7 linked regions of the Homo sapiens genome follow. The protein of the gene in region 5 interacts with the protein of the main gene of each other region in a biochemical or structural test. Each region holds a gene or a part of one and is shown on either strand. Other genes may lie near its edges. The genes, in order: MAST2, FRMPD4, LIMK2, PDZD2, PODXL, SHANK1 and DLG5.

What was found.
Region 1: the proteins of PODXL (region 5) and MAST2 interact in a test that uses a peptide from one of them, tested with the Homo sapiens proteins (one large-scale study listed by IntAct).
Region 2: the proteins of PODXL (region 5) and FRMPD4 interact in a test that uses a peptide from one of them, tested with the Homo sapiens proteins (one large-scale study listed by IntAct).
Region 3: the proteins of PODXL (region 5) and LIMK2 interact in a test that uses a peptide from one of them, tested with the Homo sapiens proteins (one large-scale study listed by IntAct).
Region 4: the proteins of PODXL (region 5) and PDZD2 interact in a test that uses a peptide from one of them, tested with the Homo sapiens proteins (one large-scale study listed by IntAct).
Region 6: the proteins of PODXL (region 5) and SHANK1 interact in a test that uses a peptide from one of them, tested with the Homo sapiens proteins (one large-scale study listed by IntAct).
Region 7: the proteins of PODXL (region 5) and DLG5 interact in a test that uses a peptide from one of them, tested with the Homo sapiens proteins (one large-scale study listed by IntAct).

Annotation. Positions count from the first base shown.
Region 1 is NC_000001.11:46,020,112-46,023,611, forward strand, and holds part of MAST2 (microtubule-associated serine/threonine-protein kinase 2), read left to right. Parts: intron 1-1,838; coding exon 1,839-1,971; intron 1,972-2,798; coding exon 2,799-2,860; intron 2,861-3,121; coding exon 3,122-3,207; intron 3,208-3,500. UniProt on the Homo sapiens protein: Appears to link the dystrophin/utrophin network with microtubule filaments via the syntrophins. Phosphorylation of DMD or UTRN may modulate their affinities for associated proteins. Functions in a multi-protein complex in spermatid maturation.
Region 2 is NC_000023.11:12,141,473-12,144,972, forward strand, and holds part of FRMPD4 (FERM and PDZ domain-containing protein 4), read left to right. Parts: intron 1-3,500. UniProt on the Homo sapiens protein: Positive regulator of dendritic spine morphogenesis and density. Required for the maintenance of excitatory synaptic transmission. Binds phosphatidylinositol 4,5-bisphosphate.
Region 3 is NC_000022.11:31,215,298-31,218,797, reverse strand, and holds part of LIMK2 (LIM domain kinase 2), read right to left. Parts: intron 1-3,500. UniProt on the Homo sapiens protein: Serine/threonine-protein kinase that plays an essential role in the regulation of actin filament dynamics. Acts downstream of several Rho family GTPase signal transduction pathways.
Region 4 is NC_000005.10:32,090,131-32,093,630, forward strand, and holds part of PDZD2 (PDZ domain-containing protein 2), read left to right. Parts: coding exon 1-1,045; intron 1,046-2,776; coding exon 2,777-2,894; intron 2,895-3,480; exon of another isoform or gene 3,481-3,500.
Region 5 is NC_000007.14:131,499,771-131,502,199, forward strand, and holds the end of PODXL (podocalyxin isoform 1 precursor), read right to left. Parts: 3' UTR 501-2,429; downstream 1-500. UniProt on the Homo sapiens protein: Involved in the regulation of both adhesion and cell morphology and cancer progression. Functions as an anti-adhesive molecule that maintains an open filtration pathway between neighboring foot processes in the podocyte by charge repulsion.
Region 6 is NC_000019.10:50,713,303-50,716,802, reverse strand, and holds part of SHANK1 (SH3 and multiple ankyrin repeat domains protein 1), read left to right. Parts: coding exon 1-138; intron 139-324; coding exon 325-528; intron 529-1,072; coding exon 1,073-1,144; intron 1,145-2,512; coding exon 2,513-2,621; intron 2,622-2,853; coding exon 2,854-3,005; intron 3,006-3,500. UniProt on the Homo sapiens protein: Seems to be an adapter protein in the postsynaptic density (PSD) of excitatory synapses that interconnects receptors of the postsynaptic membrane including NMDA-type and metabotropic glutamate receptors via complexes with GKAP/PSD-95 and Homer, respectively, and the actin-based cytoskeleton.
Region 7 is NC_000010.11:77,916,756-77,920,255, forward strand, and holds part of DLG5 (disks large homolog 5), read right to left. Parts: intron 1-3,500. UniProt on the Homo sapiens protein: Acts as a regulator of the Hippo signaling pathway.

The sequences.
Region 1 (3,500 bases), on a different chromosome or scaffold from region 5:
CTACAGTGGAGTTGGGAAGCATGAGGCATGAGGACATGTAAATAGTAATTACAATACTGCAAGAAGTGTTGCAGTTGAGGTCAGTACACAGCGTAACGGGAACCTGGAAAAGGAAGTGCTTTAGTCTTCCCTGGAAGGAACATTCAGTGAATGCTCCCTGGGGGACGTGAGGCTTATTCAGCAAACTGAAGGATGAGTCTAAGTTTCCCAGATCGGGAGCATGGGAAGGAGCATTCAGTGGGGCACAGGGTGGGTTTGAAGAAGTGCTGAGGGGTAAGCCTGGAAGGTAGGCTGTGACAGGGTCATGGAGGGTGTCGGGTTCTCGGCTCTGGAGTTTTTCATTACCCTTACGGCCACTTGGAGACACCAGAAAGTTTAGGTAAGAATGTGACATGGCCGCATTTACTTTTTTCTTAAAAAATATTATTAAGGTATAATTTTCATACAATAAAATATATCCCTTTGATGGTACAGTTCATTGAGATTTAACAAATACACACTTGTAGAATCGTGGCCACAGCTGACATAGAGAATATTTCTGTCATATAAGTTCCCTTGTGCCCCTTTGAAGTCAGTCCTCTCTTCCTCCTGCTCCCAGACAATAACTTAACTGCTTTGTTTCACTAGGGATGGGTTTGCCTTTTGTACAGTTTCCTAGAAATGAAACCATGTTTCTGTGTGGTTTCTGTAGTATGTTCTGAATTCTTTCACTCAGCATGTTTGTAGAAATTCATACATGTTGTTGCATGTATCAGTAATTGGTTCCTATTTATTTCTGTGTAAATATTACATCAGATTTAGTCCTAAGAAAGATTACTTTGGCTGCAACATGGATAGTGAATTGGAAGAGAGGGCAGGATGAGCCAGGGACATCAGGGGAGAGGTACTCAAAGCAAATTCATGTGAGATGGGGTGGCCAGAACTCAGACAGTGAATGGTAGGATAATAGAGAGAAAGAGGTGGATTAGAGGGGTATTTATGAGAGAGACATTCTGACCAAATAGGAGCTAAGGAAGGATAAGAAGTTAAAAGGACTTCCAGGTCTGGCGTAGGTTATATCCAGATAGGTACAGTTCTCCAAAACAGTGAGGCCACAGGGAATGAGAACAGAGTTCAGGGCAGAGGCTATGCTGTGATAGAGCAGAGAGCCTCTCCCTCAGGAACATGAAGTCCTTGGCTAAGCAGGGGCTTGGAGTCAGACCTGGGCTGAATGCTGGTTTTCTGTTCCTTCCTACTACTGTGATTATGGACAAATCAGTGCATCCCTGAAAGCCTTGATTTCCTCAGTGAGGTCAAAGAGTTGCTAGAGGGTTTAACCCAGTGTGTGGCACTTAGTAGGCACTCAGTTATTATGTGCAGACAAGGATTGTGCTTTTCAATGGATTTCCAGCCTCTAGCACATAGGAGGTGCCCAGTAAATATTTGAAGGTATACATGCACCAGTAGGGCTTTGCCAAAGCTCTTGTGAGCCATAATTGAGTGTGTGCCAGGACAGCTGTGGACTGGGCATCTGAATACACCAGACAGTGCCACCTGGCTGATGGAAAGCATGGGACCAGATCAATAGGCTGAGCTCTCTTTAGAGTAAAACCTCTAGTTCTTACTGCCAGGAAGACAGCATATGCTTAGCATGTCCAATCTGGAGGTGACCTGTAAGACATCTTTGTCCCCATTCCTGTGATCCCTGAATCATGTTGTTTCTGAATATTCAGGGGTGGGAGTGTCCTATCACAGAGAAAGTCTTGTTCATCTCAGTCTACTATATGCTGTAAAACCAAAGATGCCAGCAGCTTTCGCTTATATCTGTCACCACTGACTATCTCTCTCCCTTGGTACAGGAGTTTGACCCTGAAGAGTTCTACCACCTTTTAGAAGCAGCTGAGGGCCACGCCAAAGAGGGACAAGGGATTAAATGTGACATTCCCCGCTACATCGTTAGCCAGCTGGGCCTCACCCGGGATCCCCTAGAAGGTGAGCATGCTGCCTAGTGGCTGCAAAGAGGCCCCACTGCTGCTGGCAAGCTCTAACAGCAGGGAAGCTGCTTGGAAAAGAGACTTAGCTTGGACATGGACACAACATGGCCCCGGGGGCCTCAGGATTTTAGGAGATACCCTGTGATCTCTGTGACAAAACAGTCTTTACTTTGGAACTGCTGTTCACATCTGCCTGATAGATCCCAACCTGGATTGCATTGGCCCGGCTGAGTTGCATTTAGAACCTCAGTTCCAAAGAGGTCAACAACAAAGGGCCACAATCACATTTGCAAAAATGGTCACCTCCTCTGCAACTTGCCTCTACTCTTGGCCACCTTACAGGTCTTCCTGTGTCTTTGGGGTAGTCCAACACAGGGCTTCAGAGGATACTGCCATTCTTCTGGGCTTCCTGCTGAACCCCTGCAGCAACCATGGGCTTCCAAGTCCCTGGTCTGTAGGTATCCTGCTCCTGCCTTCTGTGCTTCCCAGCCCCATCCAGTGAAGCAGTCTTGGCCAGCAGGATGGGAACTAGTAACCCAGTTTCAGGCCCTGTTTTCCAGGAAATGTCCCCAGTTTATAGAATTTGCCAGGCCCTGTGAATGGCAATGGACTTCTGGAAATGGGAGTAGCAGTAGGATTTGGCTTGTTTCCTGATCCAAAAGCTGGGACTACATTGGGTATAGTGCCATGGGACTGAATTCACATCCTAGGCTGATGCAAAAAGCATTAATGACTACCCTACATGCACCTGTTGTGTGATCTGAGGATACTGCTGAGATACCTGACATTGCCACGCACATTCTTCTCTTGTATCTTTGTTTCCAGAAATGGCCCAGTTGAGCAGCTGTGACAGTCCTGACACTCCAGAGACAGATGATTCTATTGAGGTAAAAACCCTGAGCTCCTACCCCATTCCTGGAGCCTGGGCCCTATGAAGCAAAGAGCTATGAATTCTCTTTAAGAGAATATCTGAGGAAGGGATGGGGGAGTTGGTGACAGCAAACACTGAGAAGTCATTCTACTCCCAGAAGAATGAGCAGGAGACTGCACTAGAGCTGACAGCTGAGAAGATGCTAGAGCCACAGCTTCTGCAAGGATATGGGCTCTGAGAAGCATGCCTGTCTCCTGCCTTTTCCCTTGTCTTCCAGGGCCATGGGGCATCTCTGCCATCTAAAAAGACACCCTCTGAAGAGGACTTCGAGACCATTAAGCTCATCAGCAATGGCGCCTATGGGTAAAGGCAGGGGTCAGGGTGTGGCCAGGACTGAAGCCGGGTCAGCCTTTGATCTCTTCCATGTGAGAGTGTATGCTGCCCAGTCCTCTGGGCAGATGCCTCGGGGTGGACCTTCTCACTCCCAGAAGCCTCCTGGGTGGGCAGGAGTTCAGATTCCTCTGACATCCGATCATTGTTCCTTTCCCAGACAAGATTCCCACGCCTCTTACTACCACGCATCCTCCATTCCCTGAGCTCTGGGGAAGCATTGAGCCGTGTCATCAGGACATGGTCTATCAAGAAGTTTAAGAGTT
Region 2 (3,500 bases), on a different chromosome or scaffold from region 5:
TTTTGACTTTTTAGAGTGTCTACATTTAACTATTCGTTTCCAGAATCTATACCCTTTTAATCGTGGGAAAAATCAGAATTGACAGTGCCCCTCAATAACCCAGTACCATTAAAAAAAAATTGCTGCCAAGTGTTGGAATTGCTGGTAAGTAGTTGGCACCCTTTACATCATCAGTTAGAGTTATGACCCTTGATTGCATCCTTCGTGGGTGGCACAGTGTGTCATGGTTCTATCTGAAGATGGTTTTTCCCGTTCTTCTAATTTTCTGGTTCTTAAACTGCTTGATAGTTTACATGCAGTTTTACTTCACTGTTTCCTTGGTAACAGTTCTATATTATTTTCCATCCTTGTAGATGAGAGCATTACAGATGATTGCCTTATAAACCAGTAATAGTATAAAAACAGGCATATATTTTTATTGTTACTGCTCTTTGTATTGACTATTTTATTTGTAAAGCAGATGCATTCTTTCAAATGTTTATAGAAGAATGCAGTCCAGTAGAAAAACATATGATTATGCCCCTTTTGCCAGAGGGAGATGATTTGAGATCCAAAACTCATAGGGATGTTATTAAATTGAGTGATATGTTCATAGATTAAGTCCCTGATTTGGCTTCTTTTCTTTAAGCAAAACGGTAGACTTGATGATAATGATTGAGTCCCCACTGTTGATATGATGATTTCTTATAGTAGTAGGTAAATTTGGGGAATGCTTTACTTTGCATTTTCTTATAGTTGCATGGGTTATTTTGTGGTATATAGCAGTGACTAATATCTAATATTAGAATGCTAATTTTCTTACAAGTATCTTATATTTGAGGAAAAATACAAAATACATATGTATAGTTTCCTTAGATTTTTATGTCAAGTCCATTTAGATACTACTAAACTTCTGTCTTTTACCTTTATCTTATTCAGAATTAAATATTTCCCAGGGAAAAGGGGAAGTTAAAGAAGTAATGCAAAAGGTCAGGGTTTTTCCCATATCCCCTATTTTTACTGAGTAATTGTATTAATATTGCTGATAATAGTGAGCTCTGGAGGCTAGCAATGAAAAAACCCCAAAGACTCTGGATTTGAATTTTATTAAAAATGCTACTTGCTCATCTTCTGAATCCTTTCTAAGTTCTGCTGATTTTTGTGACTGTCAGGAGGTGAAATGATGAACAGTTTCATAACAGAACTAGATTCCTGTTTTAGGAATATTTAACTCTAGTTTCCCAAGAGTTGCTAGTTTGAAGCTGTGAAAGTCTAGTCGCTCGCAGTTCTGGGAAGAAGGCGTCTAGGTCAGGCTTTGTACCATTTCAAGCATCTCTCTCTCTCTCTCTTATTGTCTGGGGCAAGTGAGTTTCACCTTCTTGCTATCAGAATTTGGTACAGACTGACAGCTGCAGTGAAACTTACTTGTACTTTAAATGCATGACCTGGAAAGTCTCACTTTCTGCTTATGGTCCTTCCAGCTGTTCATTCTCCCCCTTTACATACACATACACTGTTCAACTTTAGTACTTTGTTATTTCATTTGAGGTTAACCGTGGAAGTTTAGCTGTAAGAGAATGTACATTATTGGTGAACTAGAAATGTATCTTTAAGGAATGAACTTGAAACCACTGGTTTCACACTTGGCTCAATAAGAAAACTCAAGACCGTTTAAAATCTTTGTTTAAGCATACCGTCCTGAAATCTACCACTGTTACCATCAAATGATCTTTAATCTTGAAAGCTAATCATAGCAGGAAAAGAAAATTATGAATAGGCTAAAACAGGGGTTGGCATACTGTGGCCTATGAGCCAAATCTGGCTTGCTGACTGTTATGGCATAGCCTGTGAGCAAAGAATGGTTTCTTTATTTTTAAATGGTTCAAAAATATCAAAAAAAGAATAATATGAAATTAAAATTTCAGTGTCCATAAATAAAGTTTTATTGGAACACATGTCCATTCATTTATGTATTATCTATGGCTGCATTTGCCTGACAACAGCAAAGTTGAATAGATGCCACAGAGACCTTATGGCCTACAAAGCCTAAAATATTTACTCTCTGGCTCTTTACAGAAAAAGTTAACTGACCCCTGGGTTAAACAATGCCTTTTTCCTGTTTTCTCTTCTTTATCATTAGCAGCACACATGTGGGCACACACATGTCAAATCGAGCATATTATAATAAATACTTGAATTCACTGACCCCTGGGTTAAACAATGCCTTTTCCTGTTTTCGCTTCTTTATCATTATCAGCACACATGCGGGCACACACGTCAAATTGAGCATATTATAATAAATACTTGAATTCACTAATGCACATTACCAGTTAATATAGACCTTATCTTTATTGAAACTTCTGATCTCAAATTACTTCTTGAACTGTTGGAAACTGACCATTAGAAGTGGACATAATTGTCCTACTAATTTGTTGCACTTGGAAAAATTATGCATGCTTATTCTTTGGTCACTAAGTTGACCTGATATTTTTGGGGAGCTGGAGAGTTGCTTGTTAAGGTGATGTTTGCCTTCCATAAATATCCAGTTCAAAATGTATGGAAAAAGAATGGGTGATACTACTTGTATAGCCTCAACCAATGTGTGCTGGTGAACTGATAATCAAGTCAACAGGAGAATGCCTAGTATTTCCTTACAGTACACTTGAGCCATCTGGTCCTAATGGCTAATGACCTTCACTAATCTGTTTCCAAATGGAAATAAAACCAGATAAGTGGATTTAGTTGTAGTCAGAGGAATGGAGGTAGGCTGTATCAATTTGGAGTTGAGTTTAATCTAACTTTCCTATGATTTGACTGAGAGCATTATAATGAGAAATCATAGACTACCTTTAGTTCTTTACAGCAAAAACATATATCAAAAGTATGCTGCCTTGCTTCTGAGTAATTTAGGTCATTATGTACTTAAGCTCTGAAAATTATCTTGAAGAAATCTAAGCCTTAGTTTTAGATAACAAAGTTAACATTCCCATTTTTTTTTTTTTCCTGGCAAAGAGATGAGAAGGGTTTTCTGCCAGAACTGTTCTTTCAGAAATATATTTTCAAGTATGGTTTACAGAATTTGGCATAAGATAAATAGTCTATACTAAATAATTAGTGAGTGAAGTCATATACAATTCATTCTAACATTTGTTGCAAACAAATTGTCATATTTGTTTAGCTGAACAATTACCATGTCAGTACTTCTTTATTGAATATAACGGAATACAATGTACATGTTAAAAGTAAATAGCCTGCTCTTGGACTTGGTCTCAGAGAATAAACTTTTATTTCTGTTTTTACATTTGAAGTATATATATATTATATATATAAAATATAATATATATATTTGGTGATTGATGGTTAAAAAGTCATCAACTTGTATTTCCAAGGAGTCTCTGTTTTACTGCTTTAAGCTCAATAAGCAAAGTTATGATGATATTGAAATGGGTTTTTATAGATGTCAGTAAGTTTTTATTTTAGAAAGTCTTTTTTGAAAGCTAGGAAAACACAATCATTTCTAT
Region 3 (3,500 bases), on a different chromosome or scaffold from region 5:
ATGGTAACCCCTGGGCCCCTTGGGAACTGGCGGGTCAGGTGTATAAATCCCACTTGTTCTGGGACAAAGCAGAAAGCAGAAGGGCAGGGCAGCAGCTGCTGGGGAAAAGCCAAGAGAAAAAGATCACATTTTAATGAAGTGACTATCAAAAAGACTAACAGTAAGGATTAACATGCCTCTAGATACTCTCCCTGTAACCCAAAGGGTTTTCTTCCTCACTAGCTTACCAAATTTTACCAAAAGGAGTGTCTCAGGAAAAAAAAAGATTAGATGATTTTTAAAAGAGCTTTCGAGCTTCTCTAAACCTTGGATTGTTCTTTTGTAAAAGGAGGGATCAAGTGATTTCTTCCAGCTCTGAGAGACTGACACCAAACCAAGGGCCTCTCCTTTTTCAGGTTAAGGCACAGACACAGGTATCTCAGAAAGTTTCCTTCTTGCTGTTATTCTCTTCTTCCCTTCTTTGGTTTATTTGGAAAAATTTGTGAGGGGTAAATGTATGTGTGTTTGAAACCTGAATCTGTCACTGTTTGCCTCTGTGTCCTTGGGCAAATTATTTGACCTCTCTGAGCTTGTCTCCTAATCTTTAAAAAGAGGATAATACCACCTGCTTTACAGGATTACCAAGTGGATTAATAGAAATAATGTAATAGATGTGAAAATATCTCCCATGGTGCCAGGCACTTAGTTGGACCGATTTGTGACTAACTTCTCTTCCTTCCTGCGTGTGTATCTAGGAAGTTGGCTGGGGAAAAGGTTAAGCTGAATACAGAAACTTCTAAAATCTGAAGGGAAGGTTTTCAAAACAAACTCAGCAAACTTTTTTCTATGTGCCCATGTACAAGGCACAGAGTAGGCCAGGAATTACTGGGGCCCTTGGTGTGTACTCATGGGGTGTGAAGGACATGGATATACACAGAAATAACATGTCAGAGAGGGACAAACCAGGTGCTACAGGCAAGGCAAACTCAGTACATTAACAAAATACACTGCAGTGACAAATGAGACAGATGGTTCTTATGTCTTTCAGGCCACCCAGACTGCAACTTCCAACCAGAAGTTCACTCAACTGTGAATGAGTAGGCATTTTCTTATCTATGGAGGGCCTATAAAAATATCTTTATCAGAGAACTGGTTAACCAATTGATATATTCTCATACAGCAGTTCTCTGCCAGTTGTCAATGATAGAGGAAAAAAACTACTTTATGCCAGACAATGTCCTAAGCACTACGCAAGTATGAGCTAACTGAATACAAAGATCCCATGAGATCAGGACTAGTCTTAAAGAACTATTATTGTTCTCATTTTACGGAAGAGGAAACTGAAATACTCAGCTAATAAATGTTTGAGCTGGGATTAGACCACAGGTCTAGTCTCCAAAGCCTGTCTTTTTTTTTTTTTCTGAGACGGAGTCTCGCTCTGTCACCCAGGCTGGAGTGCGGTGGTGCAACCTCGGCTCACTGCAACCTCTGCCTCCCAGGTTCAAGCAATTCTCTGCCTCAGCCTCCCGAGTAGCTGGGATTACAGGCACCTGCCCCCATGCCCGGCTAATTTTTGTATTTTAGTAGAGATGGGGTTTCACCATCTTGGCCAGACTGGTTTGAACTCCTGACCTTGTGATCCACCCACCTCAGCCTCCCAAAGTGCTGGGATTACAGGCGTGAGCCACTGCACCTGGCTCAAAGCCTGTCTTTAACTACATTTTAGACTTTCTTTCCTGGACAAAACAAATTACAGGCAGAAAGACATGATAAAAAAGAATCCCAGAAAGAATGTTCAAGGAACACTTTAATGAAACCAGGCATTGGTTTCATGTTCTAGTTACTATTCAATGTAAATTAATAGGTAAAATAGTCTAATTCTTTCTACTATATAAAAATAGATAAAGGATGAGAAAGAAGGTAGACTTGTAAGAGACTGCTACAGTTTCAGGTCCTCTCATTGAAATGAGATGTGTGTGATGGTGGGCCCTATCAGACCCGCTCAAGGTTACACTAACAAGAAGGCAGCCCTGTTCTGGGAATCAGCTCAGCCTCCAGAAGATGCAGAAAATCCACCATGAATGTGGAAAGCCTAATACAGCCCCTTGATCATGACGGATTTTTATTTAGTTTTGAAATCTTGTGGTCATTTTGGACCCTACCCTGCTCCATCACATATCCAGGACCATCCAAGTCACCCTGGCCTGCCTATGTCAGGAGGCATCTTTTATTGGTTGGTGCCTTCTTCATTGCTACCACTAAGACCTCATCTCAGGGCCCACTATACCCACCTCCAGATTGGTGGCCCTGTGCCCACATCATGAGTCTTCCTTTCTCTAAACCTACGGTGCCTACTGTAGACTAGAAACTTCCAAAATCCTCAGCCTGGCATTAAACCCTCTAGTCCGGTTGCACCCACATTCTCAGCTGTACCTTCCACTTCCTATGAATCTTCCACCTCCCAATCCTTGCCTCTACCACACGTATTTGCTACCCTTTATGAAGACCTGAAACTTGCCTACTTTTGTCTCCTACTCCCAAAGTTTCTTCCCTACTAAGATATCATCTTCCCCACCTTCTTTAAGCCTATTTAAGATTTCTCAAGTCTTACCCACTTCAAGAAGTATTCCCTAACCAAAACTGATGGCCACCCTGGATACCCTGCTATTCTTTAAACATGCCAAACACATTCCCTGACAACTCACTTCTTCTATCCCCTTACCCTACTTCACTTCTCTTCAATGGATTTATCCCTGAATATGATGTTCATACATTTACTTGCTGTCTATCTCTCCCCACCAGAACATACACTACATGAGGGAAGGGATTTGGTCTATCTTGTTCCTTGCTGTATCCCTAGGGGCCAAAAGAGTTTAGCACATAGCAGGAACTCAATATATATTTGTGGAATAAATGTTTGAAGAGAATTCTCCCTCATCTTTGAAATTCTATAATGTTATCATACGCAAGCCTTATAACAGCTTGTCTTATCAATTTTTTTCTTTTTTTTAAGAGATGGGGATCTTGCTATGTAGCCCAGGCTGGAGTGCGGTGGCTTTTCACAGGCGCAATCCCACTACTGATCAGCATGGCAGTTTTGTTTTTTGCCTTAATTACCTTAACTAGACAGTAAGTTTCTCAGAGGCACAAACTATATATAACTCATTTCCACAAATACTTATTAAGGGCTTACCATGTGCCAGACCCTGTACGTCTTAAGCAGCCTGGAATACTGGAAAGAACACTGCAGAAGTCTTACCTTGGTTCTGGCTCTACCACTAGTTGAGTGACCCTGGACAACTCCGTTTTTTTTCCCTGAGCCTCAGTTTCTTCATAGGTAAAACAAGGAGACTATACATTATCTCAAAACTCTCTCCTGGCTCTAACACCTGTTAAAATTTATAAGAGGTAAAACTTGGTCCTGCCCAGTGCCACAGACATCACAGGCACTCAGTAAATATTTGATTTGTTATCGATTCTCCGGTTACACGAGGAATCTGAGGTGTCTCAGAACATGGTTT
Region 4 (3,500 bases), on a different chromosome or scaffold from region 5:
AGTTCTCAAGCCATTTTGGACGGGAGGGTCACCCCCCACACAGCCTGGGTCGCTCTCGGGACAGCCAGGTCCCTGTGACAAGCAGTGTTGTCCCCGAGGCAAAGGCATCCAGAGGTGGTCTTCCCAGCCTGGCTAATGGACAGGGCATATATAGTGTAAAGCCGCTGCTGGACACATCGAGGAATCTTCCAGCCACAGATGAAGGGGATATCATTTCAGTCCAGGAGACGAGCTGCCTAGTCACAGACAAAATCAAAGTCACCAGACGACACTACTGCTATGAGCAGAACTGGCCCCATGAATCTACCTCATTTTTCTCTGTGAAGCAGCGGATCAAGTCTTTTGAGAACCTGGCCAATGCTGACCGGCCTGTAGCCAAGTCCGGGGCTTCCCCATTTTTGTCGGTGAGCTCCAAGCCTCCCATTGGGAGGCGGTCTTCCGGCAGCATTGTTTCCGGGAGCCTGGGCCACCCAGGTGACGCAGCAGCAAGGTTGTTGAGACGCAGCTTGAGTTCCTGCAGCGAAAACCAAAGCGAAGCCGGCACCCTCCTGCCCCAGATGGCCAAGTCTCCCTCAATCATGACACTGACCATCTCTCGGCAGAACCCACCAGAGACCAGTAGCAAGGGCTCTGATTCGGAACTAAAGAAATCACTTGGTCCTTTGGGAATTCCCACCCCAACGATGACCCTGGCTTCTCCTGTTAAGAGGAACAAGTCCTCGGTACGCCACACGCAGCCCTCGCCCGTGTCCCGCTCCAAGCTCCAGGAGCTGAGAGCCTTGAGCATGCCTGACCTTGACAAGCTCTGCAGCGAGGATTACTCAGCAGGGCCGAGCGCCGTGCTCTTCAAAACTGAGCTGGAGATCACCCCCAGGAGGTCACCTGGCCCTCCTGCTGGAGGCGTTTCGTGTCCCGAGAAGGGCGGGAACAGGGCCTGTCCAGGAGGAAGTGGCCCTAAAACCAGTGCTGCTGAGACACCCAGTTCAGCCAGTGATACGGGTGAAGCTGCCCAGGATCTGCCTTTTAGAAGAAGCTGGTCAGTTAAGTAAGTATCTGCCCACTACTTTTATTTCAGATAAACTTGTTTCATTTTGGAATAGTTTTAGATTTATAGAAAAGTTGCAAAGATAATGCAGAGTTCCCACTTACTTTTTTTTTTTTTTTTTTTTTTTGAGATGGAGCATCGCTCTGTCGCCCAGGCTGGAGTGCAATGGCGCGATCTCGGCTCACTGCAACCTCTGCCTCCCGGGTTCAAGCGATTCTCCTGCCTCAGCCTCCTGAGTAGCTGGGATTACAGGCGTGCACCACCACACCTGGCTAATTTTTGTATTTTTAATAGAGACGGGGTTTCACCATGTTGGTCAGGCTGGTCTCAAACTCCTAACCTTGTGATCCGCCTGCCTCGGCCTCCCAAAGTGCCGGGATTACAGGTGTGAGCCACTGCACCCGGCCACTTCTTACCCACTCTTCCTAATGTTCACATCTCTCATAACCACGGTCCATTCGTCAAAAGTAAGAAATTAATGTTGGAGCAATACCATTAACTACAGACTTCATTCAGATTTTGCTGAATAAATTCTGCTAATATCGTTTTTCTGTCCCAGGATCCAGGATACTACATTCCATTTTAGTGCCCTTGGTTTTTAATATCACTGCTGGAAAAATAAAAGTGCCTGCAGGGAAACATGTTTACCAAAGTGTCGCTCTGAGGAGAGGCTTCTAGAGGACATGGCACTTAAGCAAAAGCAACATGAGAGGGGCATGCAGAGGAAGAGAGAGCACAGCACGGGGGAATTTGGACTTTGGAGGTGGCTGGAGTTAAACGGAGAATTTCTAACATATTTAAAAATATTTCACTTGAGGCCAGCCGTGGTGGCTCACACCTGTAATCCCAGCACTTTAGGAGGCTGAGCCGGGCAGATCACTTAAGGTGAGGAGTTCAAGACCAGCCTGGCCAACATGGTGAAACCCCATCTCTACTAAAAATACAAAAATTAGCTGGGGATGGTGGCAGGCGCCTGTAATCCCACCTACTTGGGAGGCTGAGGCAGGAGAATCGCTTGAACCCAGGAGGCTGATGTTGCAGTGAGCTGAGATCGCGTCACTGCACTCCAGCCTGGGCAACAGAGTAAGACTCAATCTCGAAAAAAAAAAAAAAAAAGCCAGGCCCAGTGGCTCAGGCCTATAGTCCCAGCACTTTGGGAGACCAAGGCAGGCGGATCACTTGAGGTCAGGAGTTCAAGACCAGCCTGGCCAATATGGTGAAACCCTATCTCTACTAAAAATAAAAAATTAGCCAGGCGTGGTGGCAGGTGCCTGTGATCCCAACTACTCGGGAGGCTGAGGCACGAGAATAGCTTGAACCCAGGAGGTAGAGGTTGCAGTGAGCTGAGATCGTGCCACTGCACTCCAGCCTGGGTGACAGAGCTAGACTCCATCTCAATAAAAATAAAAATATTTCACTTGAACATATGTATTGAATATTTTAAAACATGTCAGAAGTGTCCTGTTAAGCTCCAGCATTGGTCCCATAACTTCTTGAGGGGATCTCTGAATTCATAGCAGTTCCCCTTGCCATTGGCAGTGAATGACATTTCTGTTCAGCACTCAGGATTTATTCTTCCATTAGTTTGGAATGGAAGTTTTGACCAAAAGAGAGCAGAAAATACCTGTTCTCTTTTGTATAGTAGAAAGGAGATCATTTTAAATGCATTCTTATAAAATGAAGAAATTGCTTTTTTCTTTAATGTTCTTCAAATATATTTATATTATTTAGTTTGGATCAACTTCTAGTCTCAGCGGGGGACCAGCAAAGATTACAGTCTGTTTTATCGTCAGTGGGATCGAAATCTACCATCCTAACTCTCATTCAGGAAGCGAAAGCACAATCAGAGGTGAGTGAAACACAGAAAGCTCAGGAACATGAATTGCGGCCGCGTGAGTGCCCAGGTATGTGCTGCCTGCCCAGACAGCCGAGGAGAGCCCGCCCCGAGTCCTGGAGAGGGAGGACTGCCTTGGGTTGCGAGTTTCACAGCTCAGTCTGACTTTGGCCTCACGTGCTGCTAGCCAGCTTCAGAAGCTAGACCTTGTCTTGAATGTTCAGGTGCCAGATGGGTGTCACTGCTGTTTTCATCCCCCAAGTAGCAACTAGTTACCATTCTCCTAACTCCTATGTGTGGAGTTTGTTTGCAGAGAGTCCTCAAAGCAGAGCTAGTCATCTCGGAAATACCTCTCGCCACCTAACTGTGGACATAAACTAGTCAAGGGAGCCACCTGCTGGTGAGAGAAGAGTTACATTGGTGTAGTCCCGCCGTTGCCCTGAAATATGGTGGACCCCTGAACAACATGAGGGTTGGGGCACTGACCTTCGAGCAGTGGAAAATCCACATATAACTTTTAACTCTCCCAAAAACTTAACTACTAACAACCTACTGTTGACCGGAAACCTTACTGATAACATAAACAGTCAATTAACACAAGTTTTGTCAGTTATATGTATT
Region 5 (2,429 bases):
TTGTTTTTACATATATATATATATATATATATATATATATATATATACATACACACACACACACACACACACACACACACATATATATGTATATATATAGTCTCTTTGCCAGTGTTTTCATACCTGATCAATGTTCAGCAGCCCTCTTGGGGATTTCTGATAGTGGTGATTCACAATGTATCTGAGGCAGAAGTAGAGGGAAGGAAGACAGCGAAACATACAACGTCATCTTAGGGGAAAGTGAGGTTCTTTAGAGTCACTAGGATAGCTTGAGTAACATAAAGACTCATAACCACCTTTAGGATCCCCCTTTTTTTTTCTTCCGGTTTCTCTCCTTCTCTTGCCTAATTTCTTTGCCTGCAGAGTTGGACAAGTGTAACTCAGCACGGAGGCTCCTGTGCTACGGGTGTGAGCCGACATTCTCAGGCACTTTGGCGATGAGCCTCATACACAAGTGAAGGCTTTAAGAAGTCCGAGGAAACTACTAGAGCTTGAACCAGTTTACACAAAAACACTTTAATTGACAGTATACAATTTTCCAAAATATATTTTTGTAAGAAAATGCAATAATTATTAACTATAGTTTTTACAAACAAGTTTCTCAGTAAATTCCAGTGTACTTCAGACCCCTGTCCACTAAGACATATATGATCCCCCAGTTCCTGGGCAAACTGTTGAACATTCACTGCAGACAAAAAGACCAACACCAAAGAGTCATCTGTGTCCTCCATGCTGTGTTTGCAGCAGACCTGAGGGATCAGCTAGTGACCGTGACAAAAGCTATGCTACAGTTTTACTCTTGCCCTCTCTGCCTCCCCCATCATGTTTCCTTGGTCCCTCAGTCCTGTTGGAGTAAGTTCCATATATAAAAGCTCATCCAAAACTTTGTTTCTTGGCAGAAAGAAAGAATTGTTCACTTACATCTTAAACCTAAATGATTCAGAGAAAGTGTAGAAGACCAGTTCTTATGTTTGTGTTCATGCCCTCCCTAGCCTTGCTAGGGTAACAACTGGGAAAGGAATTCTGTCCTTTGTGTCATTCTGGCACCTTCGAGTAGCAATTCTTAATTTACCGATTATTCCTTCTGAGGCGCACAGTCTGTGGATCCAGGTTTTAATCTTGTTTCTGTCCTGAACCATGTGATTTTGAGGAAGTCACTTCATCTTTGTGAGCTTCAGATTATCTTTTTCTCTAGAAAAAGATTGGACTAGATCTTGAAATACCTTTCTCCATGACTACAGGGTTGCCTGCCAACCAGAGCATATTGACTCCAACCTTTACTGAAATGGAGCTGTGACTTTGCTGGGGAGGGGGCAGGGTTGCATTTTAAAATTAAAAAAACAAAACAAAACACCTGATCTACAAGACAAATACTTTATCATAAGTTTGTCTTGTTATATTTCATTTTTTGTTTAAAAAAAAAAATCAAGCAAAAACTTGTCATTTCCAGTAAGACATTTACATTCCTGTCCAGAGAAAAAACTTGGCCATCACTCAGCTAACATAATGCTTTTTCAAAGTATGTTCACTTAAAGCAGTGCAGGGTAGGTTAACATGGTCACTGTATTTACATTATCAAAAAAATATGTGTATATGTATCAGTTTGAACTTGTTCTTCAAAGTTTCTCCAGTATATTGTCAAAAAAGATAAAGCTCAAGAAGTGGTTTAAATAAACTTTCTGCTAGCTTTCCTTATCAAGCGGGAAAAAAATCTGGTGCCTAGACTAGATTAAACCCGTATTCTGTCTTACAACGCAAAGAATATTCTGTACCTCCTTCATAAGCTTTGCTGCCTGTCTCCCCACTCTCATGACAGTAGGCTTCCTAGTCATCATACTTGTGGTTTCTGGCCTCCTGTGCAGCTTGGGGAAACCACAGTTTACCACTGAAAGAGCTGATGATAAACTGTCTTTGCTACAACCTGTTTAAGTCATGCTGAGCTTCTAGTGTTCCTCTTACCTCTTCCCAGACCCAATGCTCTCTGAATTATCAGAGAGCATTTAGAACCCAGTAAAGGTGGCAGAAGATGATGACCTTTATAGATGCATGGCTGTTTGGCCTGTTGACATAGGTGTCCTGGTGGCAAGAGCAAGGCAAGGTGTCAGATTCTGAAGCTGTCCTAAGCCTAGACTAACACAGTTTGGACGAATATAAAGCAGTAACCTCTGAATCAGCCCAGAGCCTCTCCGGGTTCTCCTTGGACAGAGCGATGGAGAGTCAGGAGAGTCAGGACCGACCTGGCCAGGCACTCCTGCTCTCTAGTCCTTGCCAGTCATCATCTGTCTCCAAGAGGCCATAGGGTTGCAGCCTTTGATTGATTTGCAGAGGCCTATTTGCTGTCTCCGTCAAAAGCCCTGGCTGGTGAAGTGTGACCCAGGATCAGCAAAGGAGGAATAATCCAGTCTGGCCTCTCCCACGGGACCACAACA
Region 6 (3,500 bases), on a different chromosome or scaffold from region 5:
ACCCGGGGCCAGGGCAGTGGGGCACCTGGTAGCCTGGCCTCTGTTAGAGGCCTCCAGGGCCGCTCAATGTCCGTCCCAGACGACGCCCACTTCAGCATGATGGTCTTCAGGATTGGCATCCCGGACCTGCACCAGACAGTGAGTACCTGCCCACTGGCCAGCGGCAGGAGAGGGACAGTGCCCCAACCGACATGGGGAGTCCACTGGTGCTGGGTATCCTCCCAGGAATCACCCCCACACTCAGCTCCTGGCTCACTTCCCAACCCACCTCAGGCTCTCCTCTGGCCCCTGGCCCACCCTAGCCCCTATCTCTTCCCCAACCAGAAATGCCTTCGCTTCAACCCCGATGCCACCATCTGGACGGCCAAGCAGCAGGTGCTCTGTGCCCTGAGCGAGAGCCTGCAGGATGTGCTCAACTATGGCCTGTTCCAACCGGCCACCTCCGGCCGCGATGCCAACTTCCTGGAGGAGGAGAGGCTGCTGCGGGAGTACCCCCAGTCCTTTGAGAAGGGGGTCCCCTACCTGGAGGTGAAGCTTCCCCAACTCCTTCACTGATAAGAGAAGGCATGCCCTAAAACACATCTGCCCCCCACCCACTTTTTAACACACTCGAAACCTTAACGAGGGGGCACCCAGTGTGCGAGTCCAGACCTTCTAAGCATCACAGGGAAGTCAGAGAGTCCTGAGTTCAAATTACCATCTGTTCTGCTTCTGACCAGCTAAGTGGCCTTGGCCAAGTCACTTTCCTGCCCCAAGCTTCTCCTCACCCATCAAATTGGGGGAGGATTCCCAATTACAGTAGGCACTCTAGAACATTCCCTGTGGGGTCCAGACTCCTCCTCCTTCAAGGCAGGGGTTGCAGTGCACATATACCATAATACCCAGCACTGTCGGAAAAGCCACTGCCACCCATCTACCGCCTAGACCAAGGTTCCAGGGCTGTTTTCACTCCCACCCTGAGCTACCCCGGGGAATTAGAAGGGGATCAGACCTTCCCCTACCCCAAGCCTTCTCCCCAGGCCCCTGATTCCAAGTCTCTGTGTCTCTCTCACTACCCTACCCTTGACCTCAGTTCCGATACAAGACCCGAGTTTACAAACAGACCAACCTGGATGAGAAGCAGCTGGCCAAGTTGCACACGAAGGTGAGAAAACCCTGCTGGCATCTATCCCCTATAGCCCCCTACCACTGGAGCCCCCTACCCAACCACTTTCTCTCCCCACCTCTTCCCAATAGACCTCCACATTCCCCAAGCCAGCGATCCCTCTGGCCACTGCCCCCGCTTAACTTGGGATGCTGTACCACATTTGAGACAACCACAAATACCCCCCATTATCCCCATCACAACCCCTTCTTACTTTCCTCTTTTGCCCTTCATCCCTCTGCCTGGGCCCACATCATTCCCACCTGGCCTCCTTTGAGTCTCCCTTCTCTTCCCCTGCCTCCCCCCATATCCATCCAAGGCCTCTTTACTTCCCCACCTTGGCCTAGGACCCTGACACTGAAGGTCCTTCTGCCTAGAGTCTATTTCAAAGACAGGCTACATTTCTCCCAACCTCATAGCCTGAATCTCTGCAAAATCCAACCATTACACCCCCCTTTCCAGCCATATCTGTCCTCCTGGTACCTTGCCCGCCAGTCCTCAGCCCCTGTCTGTCCTGTGTCTCGATGGTGAGAGCTGGGAGGAAATCGGGAACTGCTTTGGTCAGAAATGAAGAACTCTTGATCCTTGAGAAGGAAAAACTCCCAGTCCCTCCTTGTCTACCCTCTCCCCACCACAGCATGCATTGAACTCTTTCCTCCCCTAAATGTTCCATCCCTCCAGACTTTCACGGTCCACTTTGGGAACCACTGGCCAAGTGTGGCTCCTGAGTGCTTGCAGTGTGTTTGGTCCCAACTAAGACTCGCTGTGAGTGTGAAATACACACTGGGTTTCAAAGACTTAGTACCAAAAAAAAGTTAAATAACCTCATTAATAATTTTCATCTCAATTACCTGTTGAAACAGTAACATTGTAGCTATATCAGTTAAATAACATATATCATTAACACGAATTTCAACACAACTAACACTTCACCCCCAACCACCCTGATTTTTTTTTTTTTTTTTTTTGAGACGGGGTCTTGCTCTGTCACCCGGGCTGCAGTGGTGCAATCATGGCTCACTGCAGCCTCAACCTTTCAGGGTTCAAAGGATCCTTCCAGCTCAGCCTCCCGAGTAGCTGGGACTACAGGCGTGTGCCACCACAACCTGGCTAGTTTTTTGCATTTTTTGTAGAGATAAGGGTCTCACTTTGTTGCTCAGGCTGGTCTCGAACCCCTGGGCCCAAGTGATCCTCCCGCCTCGGCCTCCCAAAGGGCTGGGTATTTTCTCTGTAAAGGAGGCTGCTAGAAGCTTTTCAATGGCGTATGTGACTCCACGTATATTTTCACTGGACGTCGCTGCTTGAGGACCCTGCTTCTCTGCCTTGCTCCTGACTGTCCTGTCTTCTCTCTCTTTGCCCATGGCTCAGACGGGGTTGAAGAAGTTCCTGGAGTATGTGCAGCTCGGGACATCTGACAAGGTGGCGCGGCTGCTGGACAAGGGGCTGGACCCCAATTACCATGACTCGGATTCGGGAGGTAGGGAGGGGTGCGCATCAGGAGGACCTCAGGGCCAGGACAGAGCTGGGGAGCAGGGGTGCCATCTGCATTCACATCCATTCCTGACTGGTGTCTCCCAAACACATTGCTGTCCAAGGGGGAGGCCACGGGGCCAGAGGCTGTGGGGTGGAGAGCTGCAGAGCCTGGAAAATGGGAAGGGATGGAGGGGAGGAGAAGGGGCTTCATGTGACCAGCTTTTCCCGCCCTTCAGAGACCCCCTTGACACTGGCGGCCCAGACCGAAGGCTCTGTAGAGGTGATTCGAACCCTGTGCCTGGGCGGGGCCCACATTGACTTCCGGGCCCGGGATGGCATGACCGCACTGCATAAGGCCGCATGCGCCCGACACTGCCTGGCACTCACGGTGAGGCTTCGGGGACCCCCCATCCCCGCCATGGGGCCCTCTCTCCTTTTCCCTTTGTTCTTTCTCAAACCTCAGTTCTTTGGTTTCAGTTAAAAATAGGCCCTCTCATGTCCCCAGTTCAAAGCCCCTTTCCATAGACTGAGACACAGCCCCTATTGTCACCCTTGTCAGGCCCCCCAGATGCACCCACCTGGGCTATAGCTGACATCACACAGACCCGGGCACGGCCTCCTCCCCTAAACACCCAGAACGTCTCCATCCCCTGTGGCCCAGCTTAATACCAAATCTGCCTCTGTCTCCCCAAGGTGTAAACCCTTCTCATTCCTTAAAATACGAAGTGAGCTCCCTGCTATGCCCCCAGATAGAGCCCCTCCACACACACCCTGAAAACAGCCCCCCAGCTACCCTTCCAAACCAGCACTGCACCAGCTCCCCTCCCTCCTCTCTCACATGCAAATACAGCCCCTTCCCCACGTACACAGCCTCAAATGCACT
Region 7 (3,500 bases), on a different chromosome or scaffold from region 5:
CTGGGTATAAACCCAAAAGAAGAGAAAGCAGGGACTCGAAGAGATATTTGTACACCCATGGTGTCATAGCAGCATTATTCACAATGGCTAAAAGGTGAAAACAACCCAAATGTGTCCATCAACAGGTAAAGAAACAAATAAAATATAGAATATATATATATATATATATATGAATATTATTCGGCCTAAAAAAGGAATTTTGACATATACTAAAATATGGATGAACCTTGAGGACTTTATGCTTAGAGAAGTAAGCCAGTCACAAAAAGACAAATCTGTATTGACTTCACTTATAAAAGATACCTAAAGTAGTCAAATTCCTAGAAACGGACAACTTGAGAGGCCAAGGCGGCCAGATCGCTTGAATCCAGGAGTTCAAGACCAGCCTGGGCAACATGGCAAAGCCCCGTCTCTTAAAAAAATACAAAAACAAAAAATCAGTCGGGCATGGTGGCGGGCGCCTGTAGTCCCAGCTACTCAGGAGGCTGAGGTGGGAGAATGGCGTGAACCCGGGAGGCAGAGCTTGCAGTGAGCCGAGATCGCGCCACTGCACTGCAGCCTGGGCAAGAGAACGAGACTCCATCTCAAAAAAAAACAAACAAACAAAAAAAGGAGCTGGGTGTGGTGGCATGTGCCTATAGTCCCTGCTACTCGGGAGGCTGAGGTGGGAGGATCAATTGAGCATGGGAGGTTGAAGCTGCAGTGAGCCATGAGTACCACCGCACTCCATGCATTCCAGCCTGAGCAACAGAGTGAGACTCCATCTCCAAAAAAAAAAAAAGAAGAAAGAGAGAGAGAGAAAGACAGCAAGAAAGAAAGAAAGAAAAAAAGAGACAGACAGGAAATATTCATATAATGGTGACTGTCAAGGTCTAGGGGGCCATGTAGTTATTATTCAATAGGTACAGAGTTTCGATTTTGCAAGATGAAAAATTTCTAGAGATGGATGGTGCTGATGTTTGCACAGCAGTGTACAAATACTTAATGCTGGCTGGGCGCAGTGGCTCACGCCTGTAATCCCAGCACTTTGGGAGGCCGAGGCGGGTGGATCACCTGAGGTACGGAGTTCGAGACCAGCCTGGCCAACGTGGTGAAACCCCGTCTCTACTAAAAATACAAAAATTAGCCAGGCGTGGTGGTGGGCACCTGTAATCTCAGCTACCCGGGAGACTGAGGCAGGAGAACCCAGGAGGCGGAGGTTGTGGTGAGCCGAGATCATGCCATTGTACTCCAGCCTGGGCAACAAGAGCAAAACTCTGTCTCAAAAAAAAAAACAAAAAACAAAAAACTTAATGCTACTGAATTTGTACACTTAAAAAGTTATTAAAATAGTAAATGTTATATATATTTTTCCACAATAAAAAATGGTTCAAGGCCGGGTGCGGTGGCTCACGCCTGTAATCCCAGCACTTTGAGAGGCCAAGGTGGGCGGACCATTTGAGGTCAGGAGTTCAAGACCAGCCTGGCCAACATGGGGAAACCTTGTCTCTACTAAAAATACAAAAAAATTAGCCAGGTGTGGTGGCACATGCCTGTAGTCCCAGCTACTTGGGAGGCTGAAGGAGGAGAATTGCTGCAACTGGGGAGGCGAAGGTTGCATGAGCCGAGATCGCACCATTGCACTCCAGCCTAGGTGACAGAGTGAGACTCTGTATCAAAAAAAAAAAAGGTTCAAATGGTAAATTTCATGTTATGTAAATTATTATCACAATTTTGTTTAAATCCTCAAAGCAAATGGGTTATGAGCCTTAGTGTGAAATGAACGTCAAGGTCAACAGGAATTATCTACCAAGGGTTTAGAGGGATAGACTGCCAACATGGGACGCTCCAAACATCTCTATTTGGTTTAAAATGTTTCTGTAGCACTTTTGTGGAACGCAGTCTCAAAAAGATCAATAGAGATACACCGTTCAGAGGAATGCAGTCTATCCCAGGTAAAAGGCGAAAAAAAAATCCAATTTCCCCCCAGCGCAATCCCATTTAAGATTCTTCCCTGCTGAACACACATAGCATCCCTACTGTCCAGGCCAACACGCAGCTCAGCCCTCTTTCTCTATGTTTGCTACCTCTGTGGCTCACATCTTCCCAGGGTTTCAGGAAACGACTATAGAGCCCCCTCGCATGGGGCAGAACATACAGGTGGTTGGAATGAGGTGGGACAAAAAAAAATGAGACAACGGCCGAGAGTGGTGGCTCATGCCTATAATCACAGCACTCTGGGAGGCTGAGGTAGGCGGATCACCTGAGGTCAGGAATTCGAGACCAGCCTGGCCAAGATGGCAAAATCCCGTCTCTACTAAAAATATAAAAATTAGCCGGGGGTGATGGCACACACCTGTAATCCCAGCCACTCGGAAGGCTGAGACAAGAGAATCACTTGAACCTGGGAGGCAGAGGGTGCAGTAAGCTGAGATTGCACCACTGCACTCCAGCCTGGGCGACAGAGCAAGGCTCCATCTCAAAACAAACAAACAAAAAAAAAACTGAAACAAAATATTTATCCTACTCTGCTTACTTTTTCAGGAAATGGAAAACCAGAGTATCAAAAACCACTCAACACTAACATTAAATCAGATTAACAGCAATCCTGATGTAGAGCTGGAAGGGCCCCCAAAATCGAGTCCAACCCAATCACCCAACCTCCTTGGACCAAATGCCACCTGGGAAGTGCTCAAAACCCCACAGGAATGAGCAAGTCTCCCGTCAATGCTCAACCTCTTCTGTTTTGACTGTTGAACTGGGGGAAAAAAAAAAAACAAGCACCAGGAAGCTAAAAGGCTCTGCCAAGGTCAAGATTTTGCAGTTAGGAACAGATCTCCAGTTCAGGGCTTTTTTTTTTTTTTTTTTTTTTTTTTTTAAAGAAAAGTTCCTCAGTATTCTTTTGAGGACATCAAGTTGACATTCAAATTCTATGTGTAGAAAGGGAATGACTTTCTACTCTTAGACAGCGTGGGTGCTCCACATGGCTCCTGGCAGCCAGCTCCACACCACCAGTACCTGATGGGCAACCTTGGGAACTTCAGACATCAATGTCACACCACCTGCTTCCATCACAGACATACCGTGGGCGGTGATATCCCTGTGTACATCTGGGGCTTGCTCAAGCCTTCCTCCTCTCCCACAGCCTCTGCCACCATGAGGTCACCACTTAGGAATCTGCATGTATATTTGAAGATGATCTGGACAAGGATACATCATTCACTCTACACACAGCTGACTATTCATTCGTTCAACAAAAAATTATCGAACACCTATCTTGTACTAGGCTCTATTCTGGGCATGAGGACTATAACAGCAAATTCAGCTCAGGGAGGACAGCTCTGACACCTGCTTGGCATAGTATACAAGGAGCTCCCACAGAACCCTCAGAAACACCAGGAGATTCCCAGTTTTCTGGTTCTAAGGCTAGTTGCTGTCTACTACTGCCACTGTTGTGCTATATTACTCAGGGTAACAAAATGCTCTTCCATTTTTCCTACCATGGATTGTCAAATAGCACA